2 separate regions of the Homo sapiens genome follow, and region 1 is linked to region 2. The links come from fine-mapping of genetic effects on gene expression. Tissue or cell type: whole blood. Region 2 holds a variant in brackets; the other region holds the start of a gene. All regions are shown on one strand. Distances are between the middles of the regions.

Region 1 (8,084 bases), 84 kb before region 2:
ATCGCCTTTATCACCCTGGTCCTCAGTATCCTTTCAGGACGGGGCAGCCAGGAACTCATCCTCTAGCTCAACCTTTCTCCCTCCCAAGAGGATGGGGGGTGGAGGCCTAACACTGCCATGTGGGGGAGAGGACTAACACCTCTCCCTTTGGAGAGGTGAGGCCTGAGACTGCAGAAGGGGTGTTGCCAGGTTTCCGTATGTCCTACTGAACATTTCCTTAGCCTCGTTTTAGGTGGAGTCTTCTTTGTCCATGAGAGTTCTCAGCTGCAACATGGGGCAGCCCTGTGTGAGTGGGTGTGTGTCATCGATATCCTCATTTTCTATGGCACCTTCAGCTACGAGTTTGGGGCAGTCTCCTCAGACACACTGGTGGCTGCACTGCAGCCTACCCCTGGCCGGGCCTGCAAGTCCTCCGGGAGCAGCAGCACCTCCACCCACCTCAACTGTGCCCCCGAGAGCATCGCTATGATCTAAGGTCTGGGGAGGGTGGCTGGCCCGGCCTCCACAGCACCCCACCCCATATCTTCTTTCCATTTATTTCGTACCAAAAACAATTTTGAGAAAGTATTCTGTTGGGATCTGGGCTTCCTCACTTCTGGAGAAGTGGCCATCCCATGCCCACCTGTGCCATGGAGGAGTGGGCCCTGCCAGCTGCCACAGCTGCATGACCTGCTTCCCCACCCCACGGTGTCGTTTTGTTTTTAAAGGTCACCTGTCCTCACTCACCCAGCCAGCCCTTCAGGTGCCTTCTACTCCCAGTGCCAAAGCCAGACCACTGGGGTTTCCTGCTGCAGGAATTGGGGGCTGGGAACAGCAGAGGGGATAGAAGTCTGGTGGAGGTGGAGTGGGCACGCCTTAGCCTACGGAAAGGCCCATTTCTGGGCCCACTGAGCTGCACTGGGATTCTTCACTCTGCCCCTCACTTCCTTTAGGGCAAATAACACAGCAGAACCACGTGGGTATTTTAGTACTTTTTTTTATATTAAAAGAATTCTAATTTGCATGTTTGTAGCCTGTTCTGGAGAGTTGGGGGGCCTGATCTGGGATGGCTTTCCATAAGCCAAGGATGGGAGGAAGCCCTTGCCCCCCAGGAGTGCTGAGTGCACTCTGTTGCCAGAAACAAAGGATGCCAGGTGCCACCCAAATACCCCTTCAAAGGGCTTGAAACCCTTCTGGGCCTCTAAGCAATCTAAAGAACTAACTTGGTCTGATAATCTCACCCATCCCCCACTCAGAGTCTGGTTTGAACTTTGATTCCTTAGGAGGCATGGGGGGAAGGTGGGGGTGGTACAGAGAGCAACTTTAAAATATTAAAAGTGGCTTTCTCAATGGAGCAAAAAGAAAACCTGTGGGATTACAAAGTTAACTAGACATTGCAGTGGGAGGAGGGTGCAGGCTAGTTTATCAGCTTTTTTTTTTTTTTTTTTTGAGACGGAGTTTTGCTCTTGTTGCCCAGGCTAGAGTGCAATGGCATGATCTCAGCTCACTGCAACTTCTGCCTCCCAGGTTCAAGCAATTCTCCTGCCTCAGCCTCCCAAGTAGCTGGGATTACAGGTGCGTGCCACCATGCCCAGCTAATGTTTGTATTTTTAGTAGAAACGGGGTTTCACCATGTTGGTCAGGAAGGTCTCGAACTCCTGACCTCGTGATCCACCTGTCTTGGCCTCCCAAACTGCTGGCATTACAGACATGAGCCACTGCACCCAGCCTAGTTTATCAGCTTTAAGTAATTAACTGGGTACCAGACCCTGACACATTTTGCCTTCCAACCATGAACACATAGGCCCAAGCCCTGGCTATTGCAGTAATCCAGTTCTTTACCACTGCCATGAGTCCAGATGGGCCAGCAGGGAGGAAAACCGCAGCCTGGTGCCTTCTGCGATTTAGGATCACCTTCCCCAACAGAAGTAGAGACCTGATGGAGGATGCAGAGCCCCTGGCCAGGTCTGTGATCAATACAGCCTCAGGGTGGGTAAAGAAACCTTTAATGAGGATTCAAGGTTAATAAGGAAGACGCAGAGGGCCAGCACTCAGCCCCAACCTCCTCACGTGTACATGGCTCCATGGAGGTTCTCCAGTCGGTGTTGCTGCTGCTGTTTTCGAGCCTGAAGGAAAGAAGGCATGCTGGGCAGGGGCCAAAACTGAAGGCCTATGGGTGAGGGGATGGGCAGCTATTATGGGGCTGGCTCTGTTTTCAGGCCTCTGGCGTCTGCATTGCTGAGGCTCTCACCACAAATCAAAGTCACTAAGAAGACAGCCAGAGCCAGGGATTCTGAGGCCTACCCAGTCCTGCTGAGGTGGGAAGTGATGGCAGCGGGGACAGGACTCAGGGAGCCCATTACGACCCCTCCACTTAAGCATCAGCCCCTACCTTATCTCGTCTGTGCTCCTCATAAGTGTCGTCATCAGTGGGCAGCTCATAGCGGCACAAGGGACAGGAATTTGTCTGAGAAAAGTAGAGTAGTGTTCTAGCCTTGGTCTGATCTTCATAAGCTGATAACCACCCTCCCCTGCTCCCAACTGCCACTCTTCTTCCATCCCCCAGCAGTCCATGAACAGAAAGAAGCTTGAGTACTGGGCCCAGGGCACGGTGAGAGCTAGAAGAAGAGAAGCAGTACCTTGCTTAGCCAGGGCAGAATGCAGCTGGAATGGAAAAGGTGATGGCAAGGCATCTCAATGGCAGTCTCCTCCTCCTCAAATTCCAAAAGACACACGGGGCACTTGAGCTCTTTAGGAAGGAGTGCTGATCAGGAGAGCTGCTACAGGCTCTGCCTCCCAAGCTCCCACTCCTGAAGGACACTTGCCCCCACCTGACCTGGAAAACTGAAGGACCAGACCACAGTCTGGCTTGGGGAAGGGGTGGGTCTGGCCCAAATAGCAGAAAGAATCAGTGTCCTCACCAGCCTGAGAGCCTCTGATGACTGTCCTGGGGAGGTTCTCAACCACAGTCTTGGCAGCTGGTGGAGGCAGGTGGTGGTCCCAATCTACTACCAACCCCAAGTCTTCAAAGTCCATCCTATTGAAAAGTGACCTGGGGAAGGGGATGTAAAGTCAGAACAAAGGAAAACTATGCTTTTTCTTTGTCCCCATAATCCACTGGACATTAATAAACACGCTGCCCAGCTAGTAGGAATAATAGCTACCCTTAGTAGTTAGTAGATGCTCACTAGATAAAAAGCACGATGGGAAATAGTTTACAACTGCTATCAGACCGCCCCAGCACGTAAAGTGTTTATTCCCATTTTACACATGAGGCAACAGATTCAGAGAAGTTACTCAGGCTACGCTGAATAACCTGGTAGAGCCCAGATTCCAAGACCAAGCCAGATTCCAGGTCCAGTAACAGCAGTGCCTGCTGTTACTGATGAATATACCCACTCACAGCACACGGCCCCAACCCCGCCCCCATGCCTCACCTTCTCTGAGACCTCCCAGAGCCTGCTGTCCTTCCGCCCCCACGCCCACCACTCTCCAGCTCCAATCTTTCCCGCAATCCCCTTGCCCCAGGCCGGCCCAACGGACGGCCCAAATTATCGAGATGCTCATCCCCACACCCCTCAGTCTCGCCGCCCGTACTAACACTCCAGATTACTCATCTGTCCTCCCCAGAATCCGCTGCCCCTGGTAATCCGCCTTCTCCAGCCAGCCCCAGCCCAGAAACCTGCTGGTTGGACCCTATCCCCAAGCCCCGCGCACCCACCTTGCGAGCTCCAGCAGCATGTTGGTTCGCGTCTCCTGCTCAGGGTCCGACGGCTCGCAGTCGTGTTCATCGAAATAGGACGCCATGGCTGCCCAGCCTTCTGACACAGCCCTCGGACCCTGCTCGATAGCGGCCTAGCGGCGCTGGCCAATAAACTGACGAGCTGAGAGAGGCTGGCCAATCAGAGTATCCGAGGGACGGGCATAGTGGCTCGTTAAACAGCACGGAAAGCGGAAGTACTAATTCGGCCCCCTCTCATTGGCTTGAACAAGTCAGGTGACCAGAGACTAACGCCAATGATGGAGATCTGGCTGGTGAGGAATCATTTGTTTTGGAGTCGGAGCCAAGACTGAATTCCCGGGGATTTCTGGCGCGATCGCGTCCAAGTGTCTGGTGTGTAAGGCTCTTCAGTCTGCCCTGAAGCTCAGAGGGCTTCGACAGTACAGATGCTAGAGGCCTCTGCGAGCAAAGGCGGCGCTGGCCCAGGGGTTCAGGTTCCTGCGAGCGTTGGCCCATGGCGCTTCCGGATGCGCTGTCCGGATCCCCGCCGGACACTTCTGCCCCCGCGGCCCTCTAGTTGGTTCACCAGTTTGCGTTTGATTCCTGCGCATTTCTTATGTGTTAGGCATAATAATAAAGGGTGGGGCAAGCCTCCCCAACTGAGAGAGATCTCTTTGCCGGAGAACCTGGGGCCTCAACCAGCTCATGGGACTGTTACCTTCAGCCCGTTGCTATCCCTAGCTTCTGTAAAACTGCTGGCTTGTACTAAGACCTTTTCATTCCTGGCTACACATGAATTCCCAGAGGAGAGAATGGGCGCGGAGGAGCTTTAGAAACACCCGTGTCTGATACCTTCGAAGATTCTGATTTAACTGATCTGTGGTGGGGCCTGGGCAATGGCACTTGTATAAATTATGCAGGTGAAGCAGGTTTAAGAACCACTGCACTCAATGATTTGGATGATAGGTACTATTTAGCATCTAGAACTGTTAGTCTGATGTATGTTTTACACGCTCGATCATCCCCTCAATAGACCCAGGAGCTAAGCGTCATTATGCCCTTTTTACCTCAGAAGTGGCTTGCCCAAATTTGCAGTCTGTAAGTGGTGTTGCAGACCAGCTGCAGGGCCAAGTGCTTTCCTCCATCTTTCCCAAGAGAGGAAGACGCTAATGCGCTCAGTAAAACTAACACGCTCTGTAAGGGGTGAAGCTCCACACAACTCAGGCTTATTCTGGTTTCTGTCAGTAGCGCTCACTTTACCCAGCAAGGAACTGCTTATTTTACACACTTGACCCTGAATTCCCCTTGCCACTCACACCTGAGTTTGAACTGCAGCTAAGTAGCCCAGGCAGAGGCTGCCCTGTTTCCACAGTCTTGGTGTGGCTTTATTTCCTTCTTCCATGCCTTTGCCCAATGATCTTTGCTATGGCCCTGAAGGCACTGCCTCCCTGGCCTATATGGCCCTGTAGCTTTGAAAAGCCTGAATTCAGGCTGGACATGGTGGCTCACGCCTGCAATCCCAGCACTAAAGGCAAGAGAATTGCTTGAGCCCAGGAGTTCGAGACCAGCCTCGGCAACATAGACCCCGTCGAAAGAGGGAGGGAGAGAAGACACAGGAGAGACCCCGTCGAAAAAGGAAGGAAGGGAGGGAGGGAGATGGGAATACCAAGGAGTGCTTTAAGGTCCCCATCTCTTGCTGTCACTTCCCCCATCTGCAGTCTGATGTAAAGCTTGAGGTAGATAGAATGTGGAAAGAGAAATTGAGGAGTGGGAAGTGTTCAGAGGGGAAACCATTTATCTGAAGGTGAGAGCCTTATGAAAAATTTTTTGGGCCAGGCGCGGTGGCTCATGCCTGCAATTCTAGCACTTCGGAAGGCCGAGGCAGGTGGATCACCTGAGGTGAAGAGTTCAAGACCAGCTTGGCCAACATGGTGAAACCTTGTCTCTACTAAAAATACAAAAATTAGCCAGGTGTGATGGTGGGCACCTGTAATCCCAGCTACTTGGGAGGCTGAGGCAGGAGAATTGCTTGAACCCAGGAGGTGGAGTTTGCAGTGAGCTGAGATAGTGCCATTGCACTCCAGCCTGAGCAACAGAGCAAAAACTCTGTCTCAAAAAAAAAAAAAAAAAATTGGTGAAGTGCTTTCTTCTTTGTCATCGCATCTACAGTCTCATTGGTCCTCTAAGCATCCCCAAGATGACAGAAAAATAATAGATTTCATTCTCAGAGAAACAGGCTCAGATGGGGAGGACTGGTTCAAGGGTCTGCTTTGGGGGCCATTGTGTTCTTGCATCCACACTCCCTGTCTGTGTCGGGCTGGATCAAGTAGGGAAGGGAGAGGAAGGAGCCATCTCCCAGGGGTGGAGTCCTTTGGGTGATGGGCTTTTTAAGCAGCCCTAGGGGTAGAGACAGATGGGATTAACCAACCTGGGGACCTTCACACACAGATACCAGCTTTTAATCAAACAGCAGTTTTTACTGAGCTCCAGGTGGGGCTGGCCCAGCATGGCCAGTACAGCAGGCTGCCCTCAAGGGCCAGTCTGTGGCATGACAGGAAATGCAGGGGTGCACATGTTGGGGCTGCCCTTTGGCACTCACTGGGGTGGGTCAAGGGAGAGCAAACACCAAGGTCCTCTGGAGACCAGAATCGGCCAGTGCAGCCATTTGGCTTCTCCTTCAGGACCAGCTGGGTCAGTTCCCAGGCCCTGAGGCAATGCCTGCATCCTGGGTCCGTGGGGCACTACTGCTGTCACTGCTCTGAGGGAGAAAGACGACCAGCAGCACAATCAGGATGATGAGCAGGACACCAACCACCACCAGCCCCACGCAGATCCGGTAACGGATGTTCTCCCAGCACTTCTTCTGGGCCAGGTTCTGTGTAGTCTTGTTGAAGGTTGAGCTCTGCGGATACCCCCAGACACAAAGTGGGAGTTAGCTGGCACCCTCTTGGCCTGGGAGCCAGCTCCTCCCAACCCCATCTCAGTAAGGCTTAGTCTCCTCCTGCATCCTCCCCATCTTGTCTACTTTCTTTCTTTTTTTTTTTTTTTTGAGAAGGAGTCTCTCCCTGTCACCCAGGCTGGAGTACAGTGGCACAATCTCAGCTCACTGCAACCTCTGCCTCCCGGGTTCAAGCAATTCTCCTGTCTCAGCCTCCCTAGTAGCTGGGACTACAGGTGCACACCACTGCGCCCGGCTAATTTTTGTATTTTTAGTTGAGATGGGGTTTCACCATACTGGCTAGGATAGTCTTGAACTCCTGACCTTGTGATCTGCCCACCTCGGCCTCCCAAAGTGTTGGGATTACAGGCGTGAGACACCGCGCCCGGCCTTGTCTGCTCTCTTTCTATACCACCTGCCGTGGAACCCTCCCAGCCTGACTCATCTCAAACACCGGTGTGGCCCTTGACTTTCAGCCCTAGTGTCTCACCCTCAGTTAACAATGCCAGTACTCAGGCTGGACACAGTGGCTCATGCCTGTAATCCCAGCACATTGGAAAGCCAAGGTGGGAGGATCTCTTGGATCCAGGAGTTCAAGACCAGCCTGGGCAACATGGTGAGACCTCATCTCTACAAAAAATCAAAAATTAGACAGGCATGGTGGTGCAGGCTTGTAGTCCTAGCTCTTCAGGAGGCTGAGGCAGGAGGATCACTTAAGCCTGGGAGGTAGAGGCTGCAGCAAATATGATTGTGCCACTGTACTAGCCTGGGCGACAGAGTGAGACTCTGTCTCAAAGTAAAAAAGAAACAAAAAACGATACCAGTTTTCTACCTTTAAGAAGGTCCACAGCTTCAAACCAAGGCCTTCTTATCTTGTGGGGTCTATCTGTTGCATGTCTAGGCTATGGGTGCCTGAGGAAACCCAGAGGCCCCACACTGGCCCTCAAGAAGGCCTCAACCCCACCAAGGAACTGGAGATCCTGAATACAGCCCAAGAGAGACTTTCCCAATCCTCTCCCCTCCCCTCCATGCTCCCCCAGGCCTCACACCATATCCAGGAGTTGGTCTGAACGCTGCTGCAGTTCGGCCAGCTTCACACCACGCTCCAGGACCTTGCCGAAGTTGTTACGCATAATTTCCGTCACCTCGTTCGCCTGCTGCTGGCACCGCTCCAACTCTATTCCTGCCTGGACACCAAGCCCGAGGTCAGGGCTGCATGAGGCCCCCACCTGGCCCTCATCTGCCCCTGAGATCTAGAAGCCTCCTTCTCCCCCTGTAGGTGGGTACAGCATGAGAGTAACAGCATCCTTCGTGTAAGGGTATGATGTGTGCGGAGTGAAGGTCTGGCCTTCGGGGTGAGTGCGGCACACCTTAAGTCTCACAGGCTCCTCCCCTTGCACGTCAAGGCAGGGCCTAGGACCTAGGTAAGTCCCGGCTTCCAGCACC
Region 2 (8,101 bases):
TACGAAAAATACAAAAATTAGCTGGGTGTGGTAGCGCACACCAGTAGTCTCAGCTACTCAGGAGGATGAGGCAGGAGAATCGCTTGAACCCAAGAGGCGGAGGTTGCAGTGAGCGAAGATCTCGCCACTGCACTCCAGTCTAGATGACAGAGTGAGACTCGGTTCTTAAAAAAAAAAAAATTGCTAGGTCAATTCAATTGGGACTTCTGGCCCTCTGCCTGGTCCCCTCACTGTCTTCCTCAAAGACTTAGGGCCATTCCCCTGTGAATCTCAAATCAGGGCAGCCCTCAGTGCCTCCTCTCCATATCTTAATCAGATACGAATAATCAGAGATGACAGTATTTAAAGAAGCCTTGGGGGATCAATTACAAATAGCCCAATTTCAGTTACAAAGGACTTTCACTTTGATCTAATATTTAAGTGAGAGACTCTCACCTGAATACAGACCTGATAAAAAACATTAGAAGGATTAAATGCTTTGCTTAAGGTCACACAGAATGCATCAAAACTTGCACTTAAAGTGGGGACCTATCTTTTAAATCTAGCAATATATTTTTTCCAGCACCATATCTTGGTAGCCAATGGTGATAACAAAGCTGTTTTTGTTTTTCTAAAATGAAAAATATACTAATGTCTTTATTTAGAGTTTTTCTAATAAAATACAAATCATTACTACCCTGTTGGGTACAACATATTAAAAATGTTTTTATCTTAGCTGTCTTATCTGCCTGGGTTTGGGATAGATTTTAGGATTTAATATTATTGGGTCACGTAATATCATTATGTTTATCAGAGTGAAATCTAGTTTAGCCTTTTGCGTACTCAATAAAAACCATCGTGAATTTTAGAAAAACTGCTCAGAGTTCATATTTGAGCAGTTGCGTATTGGCAGCAGCATCTTGATATAAAAGACAACTTGTTATTTTTACGCATTCTGGAATTGTGAAACTTAGAAAGCACATTATGTTTTTTTTTTTAAAGATTATGTTTGTTTAGTGCTTTATATCTATTATAATCCTTATGAAAGCCCCGTGAAGCAAGTGTGTAAGAACTGGCATTTTAGGCTGGGCACGGTGGCTCATGCCTGTAATCCCAGCACTTTGGGAGGCCAAGGTGGGCAGATCACTTGAGGTCAGGAGTTCAAGAGCAGCCTGGCCTACATGGTGAAACCCCGTCTCTACTAAAAATACAAAAATTAGCCGGGCATGGTGGCAGGTGCCTGTAATCCCAGCTACTGGGGAGGCTGAGGCCAGAGAATCACTTGAACCTGGAGGGTGGAGGTTGCAGTGAGCCGAGATCTTGCCACTGCACTCCAGCCTGGGTCACAGAGCGAGACTCCATCTCAAAAAAACCCAAAAATAATAAAAATAAAAATAAAATTTTAAAAAATAAAAAAATTAAAAATAAATAAAGATGAAGAAACCAAAGCCACGGGGCCTAAGTGGTGTGACCAGGGTCACTGGACTCATTGGTGGCTGCATTGGTCAGGGTCTTGGCAAGAAACAGAGGGCACACTCCAGTTGGGTAATTTCAGCAGAACCTAATAAAGGAACTCTTTACAAAAATAGGGGCAGGGTGCAGGGAAGCCACAGGGACAGTGTGTTGTTGTGGGGAGCTACATAGGCTTGCCATGGAGGGAGGAAGGAGGGCCAGGTCACCAGAACTGGAGAGGCCTGCAGTGTCAGTGCACAGAGACCTCCTAGGTCTAAGAACTCAGGATAATTAACACCCAACCCCTCTGTCCTCCCTCCTTCTGATCCCCTAAAGGAGACCCTCGTTGGCCTTATTGGAAGCCAGAGGGCAAGGGAGCCTGCTGAGGTTTCTACACAGGTCAGTCTCCTGGGCACTGAAGAGAGAGAGTAGGGAGTGGCTCCCGGATGGAGTAGGCAACAGAAGATATCCAGCACAGAGGTGAATCCATGAGTAAACCTCAGACTTCCTTTAAAAAAATAATAGTAGGGCCGGGCGTGGTGGCTCATGCCTGTAATCCCAGCACTTTGGGAGGCCGAGGCAGGTGGATCACCTGAGGTCAGGAGTTCGAGGCCAGCCTGGCCAACGTATAGTGAAACCCCGTCTCTACTAAAAAATACAAAAATTAGCTGGGCATGGTGGTGCACGCCTGTAGTCCCAGCTACTTGGGAAACCAAGGCTGGAGAATCACTTGAACCCGGGAGGCAGAGGTTACAGTGAGCTGAGATCATACCACTTTACCCCATCCTGGGCGACAGAGTGAGACTCTAACAAAGCAAAACAAAACAAAATAAAAAATAATAGGTCAGGCATGGTGGCTCATGCCTGTAATCTCAACAATTTGAAAGGCCGAGGCAGGCGGATCACTTGAGGCCAGGTGTTCGAGACCAGCCTAGGCAACATAGCGAAAGCTCGACTCTACTAAAAATACAAAAATTAGCCAGGCATGGTGGCACATGCATGTCATCCTAGCTACTTGGGAGGCTGAGGCACAAGAATCACTTGAACCCGGGGATAGAGGCTGCAGTGAGCCAAGATCATGCTACTGCACTCCAGCATGGGTGACAGAGGAAGACTCGGTCTCAAAATAATAATAATAATATGATAATAATGAATAGATAATTATGTGAGGTGATGAATATGTTAATGGTCTTGATTGTGATTGTTTCATAATGTATACCTATATCAAAACATTAAGTTGGACCAGCATGATGGTTGATGCCTGCAATCCCAGCACTTTTCAAGGCTGAGGTGGGAGGATCACTTGAGCCTAGGATTTCGAGACCAGCCTGGGCAACATAGTAAGACCTCATCTCTACAAAAAATCAAAAAATAGCCAGGTGTGGGGCATGCACCTATAGTCCCAGCTACTTGGGAGGCTGAGGCAGGAGGATCACTTGAGCCTGGGAGGTGGAGTTTGCAGTGTAACCGAGATTGTGCCACTGCAGTCAGCCTGGGCAGCAGAGAGAGGCCCTGTCTCTAAAAAAATGAAAAACAGGGGCTGGGCACAGTGGCTTATGCCTGTAATCCCAGCACTTTGGGAGGCAGAGGTGGGTGGATCACCTGAGGTCAGGAGTTTGAGACCAACCTGGCCAATGTGGTGAAACCCCATCTCTACTAAAAATACAAAAATTAGCCGGGTGTGGTGGCAGGCGCCTGTAATCCCAGCTATTCGGGAGGCTGAGGCACAAGAATTGGTGGAATCCGGGAGGCAGACGTTGCAGTGAGCCAAGATCGCGCCATTGCACTCCAGCCTGGGCAACAAGAGCAAAACTCTGTCTCAAAACAAAATAAAAGAAAAAAAAAAAAAACAACCCCACCCCCTCCAAAAAAAAAAAACCGTTAAGTTGTACACCTTAAATATGTACAGTTGTTATTTGCCAGTTATACTGAAATAAAGCTGAAAAAAAAAACTGATCTCGGACTTCTTGTCCCTTGATCCTATGCTCTTTCCATAACACTGTGCCTGAGACACATAACACTGTGCCTGAGTCCTAGCTCCTAGCACAGAATTTCAGAGAAGTTCCCTTCAGGACCACCCTTTGGCCCACAACATCCCTCAACATTAAACTTTAAGCTCGTTTTCTAAAGCGTTCTGTGAATATTAGCCTCTATGGAAGGATCCCATAGGATCCTTTTTTGACAG[C/A]GATCCCATGGGAGCTATAAATCAGACTGGGTCAGGCAGTGGCCTGTGGGCTAGGCCAAGATGGCAGGGCTGGCAGGTTGAGAAAGGTCCCCTGAAGTCATCACTGGTTCTTGGCCATCATCACATCTTGGCAGAGATCCTCAGAGCCTTTAATGCAGCTGTAGTGGGCATTAGCCACGAGGCTGGCAAAGTTTCAAGAATAAAAGAATCCATTTTACTATCTTTTGCATCTGGCAATTAAAGGACCTTGAACAAAAGACTTCATCTCACAGCACTGTTGATAACTCTACGGTTTGCACTTGGCTACCCTGGCTTTATTTTTATATAATCCCTCTGGCATGAGACTCCAGGTTTTATAGAAAGTAAACATCTCGGGGGTGTTGGAGCTTTCTACCTTGGATGCGTTCTTTATTCACCTTTATCCTTGGTTCTCTGAGGGCTAAAGTCATAAAAAGTTTGATGACAGTGACCTCTTCCAAACCCAAGAGCTATGAGAGCAGTGTACTGAGAAATGCAAAGCCCAATGTTCTCATGGAACACAAACTCACCCAGAGGTCACAGAGAAAAAATTCTCAGTTCCTGTTCTGGCAGAATCATTTCCAAAGAAATGAAACCATGGTCACATCCAGCTTTTATGGTCTGAGTGGTCATATTCCTGAAAGAAGCATAACTACTAGAATCTAAGGTGACTTCACTACAAGGTTAATACATTCACTCCCCCAACTCCTCACCCAAATAAGGCCTTATGCACTGTGCATTTTCCCCCACTGCTGGGGGAGGTTTTTCTAAATTTCACTCATAAGCAGTTTACCTGGTACCACTGGAATTGATCAAAGAGGCACAGAGTTGGCCGGGCGTGGTGGCTCACGCCTGTAATCCCAGCACTTTGGGAGGCCGAGGTGGGCGGATCACGAGGTCGAGAGATCGAGACCATCCTGGCCAACATGGTGAAGTGCTGTAATCCCAGCACTTTGGGAGGCCGAGGTGGGTGGATCACCTGAGGTCAGGAGTTTGAGACAAGACCAACCTAGAGAAACCCTGTCTCTACTAAAAATACAAAATTAGCCATGCATGGTGACACATGCTTGTAATCCCAGCTACTCGGGAGGCTGAGGCAGGAGAATCGCTTGAACCCGGGAGGCGGAGGTTGCAGTGAGCCGAGATCACACCACTGCACTCTAGCCTGGCGATAGAGCAAGACTTCATCTAAAAAATAAAATAAAATAAAATAAAATAAAATAAAATAAAATAAAATAAAATAAAATAAAATGGCCTGGCGCGGTGGCTCACGCCTGTAATCCCAGCACCCTGGGAAGCCGAGGTGGGCGGATCACAAGGTCAGGAGATCGAGACCATCCTGGTAACATGGGGAAACCCTGTCTCTACTAAAAATACAAAAAAGTTAGCCGAGCGTGGCGGCGGGCGCCTGTAGTCCCAGCTGCTTCGGAGGCTGAGGCAGGAGAATGGGGTGAACCCGGGAGGCGGAGCTTGCAGTGAGCCGAGATCCTGCTACTGCCCTCCAGCCTGGGCTACAGTGCGAGACTCCGTCTCAAAAATAAATAAATAAATAAATAAATAAATAAATAAATAAATAAATAAAATAAAATAAAGAAAATGGCTCTAGCACAGTGGCCCTATTGCCATTCCTGCCTCAGGAATTTTGCACTTGCTGATTCCTCTGTTTGGACCACTCTTCCCCCAGATTGCCGTATATGGCTCACTCCCTCACCTCCTTCAGATCTTTATTCATATGCTGCTTTCTCAGTGAGACTTTCCCTGGCCACCCTGGATGCCCTGTTTAACATTGATGCTTCACTCCGGTACCCCATCCCTCTTCCCTGATTTATTCATTTTTTTCCTGTAACACTTAAACCATCTAACCTACTCCCTTCCCTATTATTTTATTTACTTATTTCACTGTGGTAAAATATACACCACACAAAAATTACCATTTTAATAGTTTGTAAGTTTTCAGTTCGGTGGCATTAATTACATTCACATTGTTGTGCAACCATCACCACTATCCATCTCCAGACCTTTTGCATCTTCCTCAACTGTTGAAGCTCTATACTCTTTGAACGCTACCTCCCCATTCCCCACTCCCCCCAGCCCTTGGTAACCACCATTCTACTTTCTGTCTCTATGAATTTGACTACACTAGGTGCCTCATGTAACTGTAACACTAGGATCTTTCTCTCTCTCTCTTTTTTTTTTTTTTTTTTTGAGATGGATTCTTGCTCTGTCGCCCAGGTTGGAGTGCAGTGGTGCGATCTTGGGTCACTGCAACCTCCGCCTCTTGGGTTCAAGCGATTCTCCTGCCTCAGCCTCCCAAGTAGCTGGTATCACAGGCACCTGCCACCACACCTTGCTAATTTTTGTAGAGACGAGGTTTCACCATGTTAGCCAGGCTGGTCTCGAACTCCTGACCTCAGGCGATCTGCCCGCCTCAGCCTCCCAAAGTGCTGGGATTACAGGCATGAGCCACTGCGCCCGGCCAGCCACCAAGCCTGGCCAATCTTTGTCCTTTTATGTCTGGTTTATTTCACTTAGCACAGTGTCTTTGAGGGTTTATCCATGTGGTAGCTTGTGTCAGAATTTCATTCCTTTTTTTTTTTTTTTTTTTAAGGTGGAGTCTCACTCTGTCACCCATTCTGGAATGCAGTAGCGCAATCTCTCGGCTCACTGCAACCTCCGCCTCCCAGGTTCAAGCAATTGTCCTTTCTCAGCCTCCTGAGTAGCTGGGACTACAGGTGCATGCTACCACACGTGGCTAATTTTTGTATTTTTAGTACAGACAGGGTTTCACTATGTTGACCAGGCTGGTCTTGAACTCCTGACCTCAGGTGATCCACCCGCCTCAGCCTCCCAAAGTGCTGGGATTACAGGCATGAGTCACCATGTCCAGCCAGAATTCTGTTCCTTTTTTAAGATTGACTAGCCAGGCGTGGTGGCTCACGCCTGTAATCTCAGCACTTTGGGAGGCCCAGGCGGGTGGATCACCTGAGGTCAGGAGTTTGAACCACCCTGACTAACATGGTGAAACCCCACCTCTACTAAAAATACAAAATTAGCTGGGCGTGGTGGTGCACGCCTGTAATCCCAGCTACTCTGGAGGCTAAGACAGGAGAATTGCTTGAACCTGGGAGCCGGAGGTTGCAGTGAGCCGAGATTGCGCCATTGCACTCCAGCCTGGGCAACAAGAGCAAAACCCCATCTCAAAAAAAAAAAAAAAAAAAAAAAGACTGAATAATATTGCATGGTCTGTATATGCCATAGTTTGTTTATCCATTCATCTGTCAAAGGACATTTGAGTTGCTTCCACTTTTTGGCTATTGTGAATAATACTGCTATGAACATGAGTATACAAATATCTCTTTGAGTCCCTGCTTTCAATTCTTTTTTTTTTGAGATGGAATCTCGCTCTGTTGTCCAGGCTGGAGTGCCGGGGTAAGATCTCAGCTCACTGCAACCTCCGCCTCCCAGGTTCAAGCGATTCTCCTGCCTCAGCCTCCCAAGTAGCTGGGACTACAGGCGTGCGCCACCACGCTCAGCTAATTTTTGTATTTTTAGTAGAGATGGGGTTTCACCATGTTGGTCAGGCTGGTCTTGAACTCCGGACCTCCTGATCCGCCCGCCGCGGACTCCCAAAGTGCTGGGATTACAAGTATGAGCCACTGCACCCGGCCAATTCTTTTGTGTATATACCCAGAAGTGGAATTGGTGGATCAAGTGGTAATTTTATGTTTAATTTTTTGAGGAACCACCATACTGCTTTCCATAATGGCTGCATCATTTTACATTCCCACCAGCCTATCTAACCTACTTTTACTTATATATTTTGTTTAGTGCCTGTCCCCTACCCTTCTTTGAATGTAAGCTCCATGAGGCTAGTAGAGATGTGTTTCCTGAGTATCTAGATCCTTGTTTGGCACATGGTAGTCAGTGTTTGTTAAATAAATGAACTGATTCAGTGCCTCTGACTTCATTTGCATTATTTTGATCCCCATTCAAGGGCTGGCTTAATCCCAGTGGAGCCCTTTTTGGTCCATCTCCCCAGCAGGCTCTTTCCCAACTAGGTGTATGCCTCTTGCAACTCATCCTCACTTTCTGCTTGTATTCTAGTTGTCTGTGAGAGTGCCCTATCTTTCCCTCTGAATTATAATATCCTTAATGTTAGGGAGCTTGGTTTTTTGGCCTTTTCTTATCTTTGTTTTGCCATCTTTCTAGCTCAGGGGCAGAGACTCAATACATTTGTATCAGAAGGACACTCTAAATGTCCAGGCTGAGCAGTGCCACTGTCAAGGATAGGCTTGAGCAGTCCAGAGCTGAGACCAGGCCTCCAAAGAAACTGGCTGTGTCGCTATGGCACGTGCCTCTCTCTCTGAGTCTGGTCCTCTTTTGTCTGATGAGGGGATTAGACCAGTGACCTCTCAGGTTCCTCTTAGATATTACATGTGCTGTGGGACCGAGTGTTTTGCAGGAAGA

The links. PIP is the estimated chance that this variant, and not a neighbour inherited with it, causes the effect.
Region 1: RNF181 starts here. The variant in region 2 is fine-mapped to the expression of RNF181 in whole blood (TOPMed, PIP 0.96).

What each region holds. Positions count from the first base shown.
Region 1 is chr2:85,591,466-85,599,549 of GRCh38, reverse strand. It overlaps RNF181 (ring finger protein 181), which reads right to left and starts at 3,805. Exons shown (of 5, transcript NM_016494.4): 1 at 3,701-3,805; 2 at 2,901-3,031; 3 at 2,619-2,728; 4 at 2,372-2,446; 5 at 1,842-2,105. The coding sequence starts at 3,786. The coding sequence ends at 2,046. It overlaps VAMP5 (vesicle associated membrane protein 5), which reads right to left. Exons shown (of 3, transcript NM_006634.3): 2 at 7,688-7,825; 3 at 6,144-6,602. The coding sequence ends at 6,393. It overlaps TMEM150A (transmembrane protein 150A), which reads left to right. Exons shown (of 8, transcript NM_001031738.3): 7 at 1-25; 8 at 233-1,003. The coding sequence ends at 474. RefSeq lists a silencer at 3,774-3,913 and enhancers at 5,857-6,356, 6,357-6,858.
Region 2 is chr2:85,507,271-85,515,371 of GRCh38, reverse strand. No RefSeq gene overlaps it. Among named protein-coding and RNA genes, the nearest start is that of PARTICL, 28 kb to the left of the region's middle. RefSeq lists a silencer at 1,845-2,024. The variant C/A (reference allele first, on the strand shown) is at 3,617.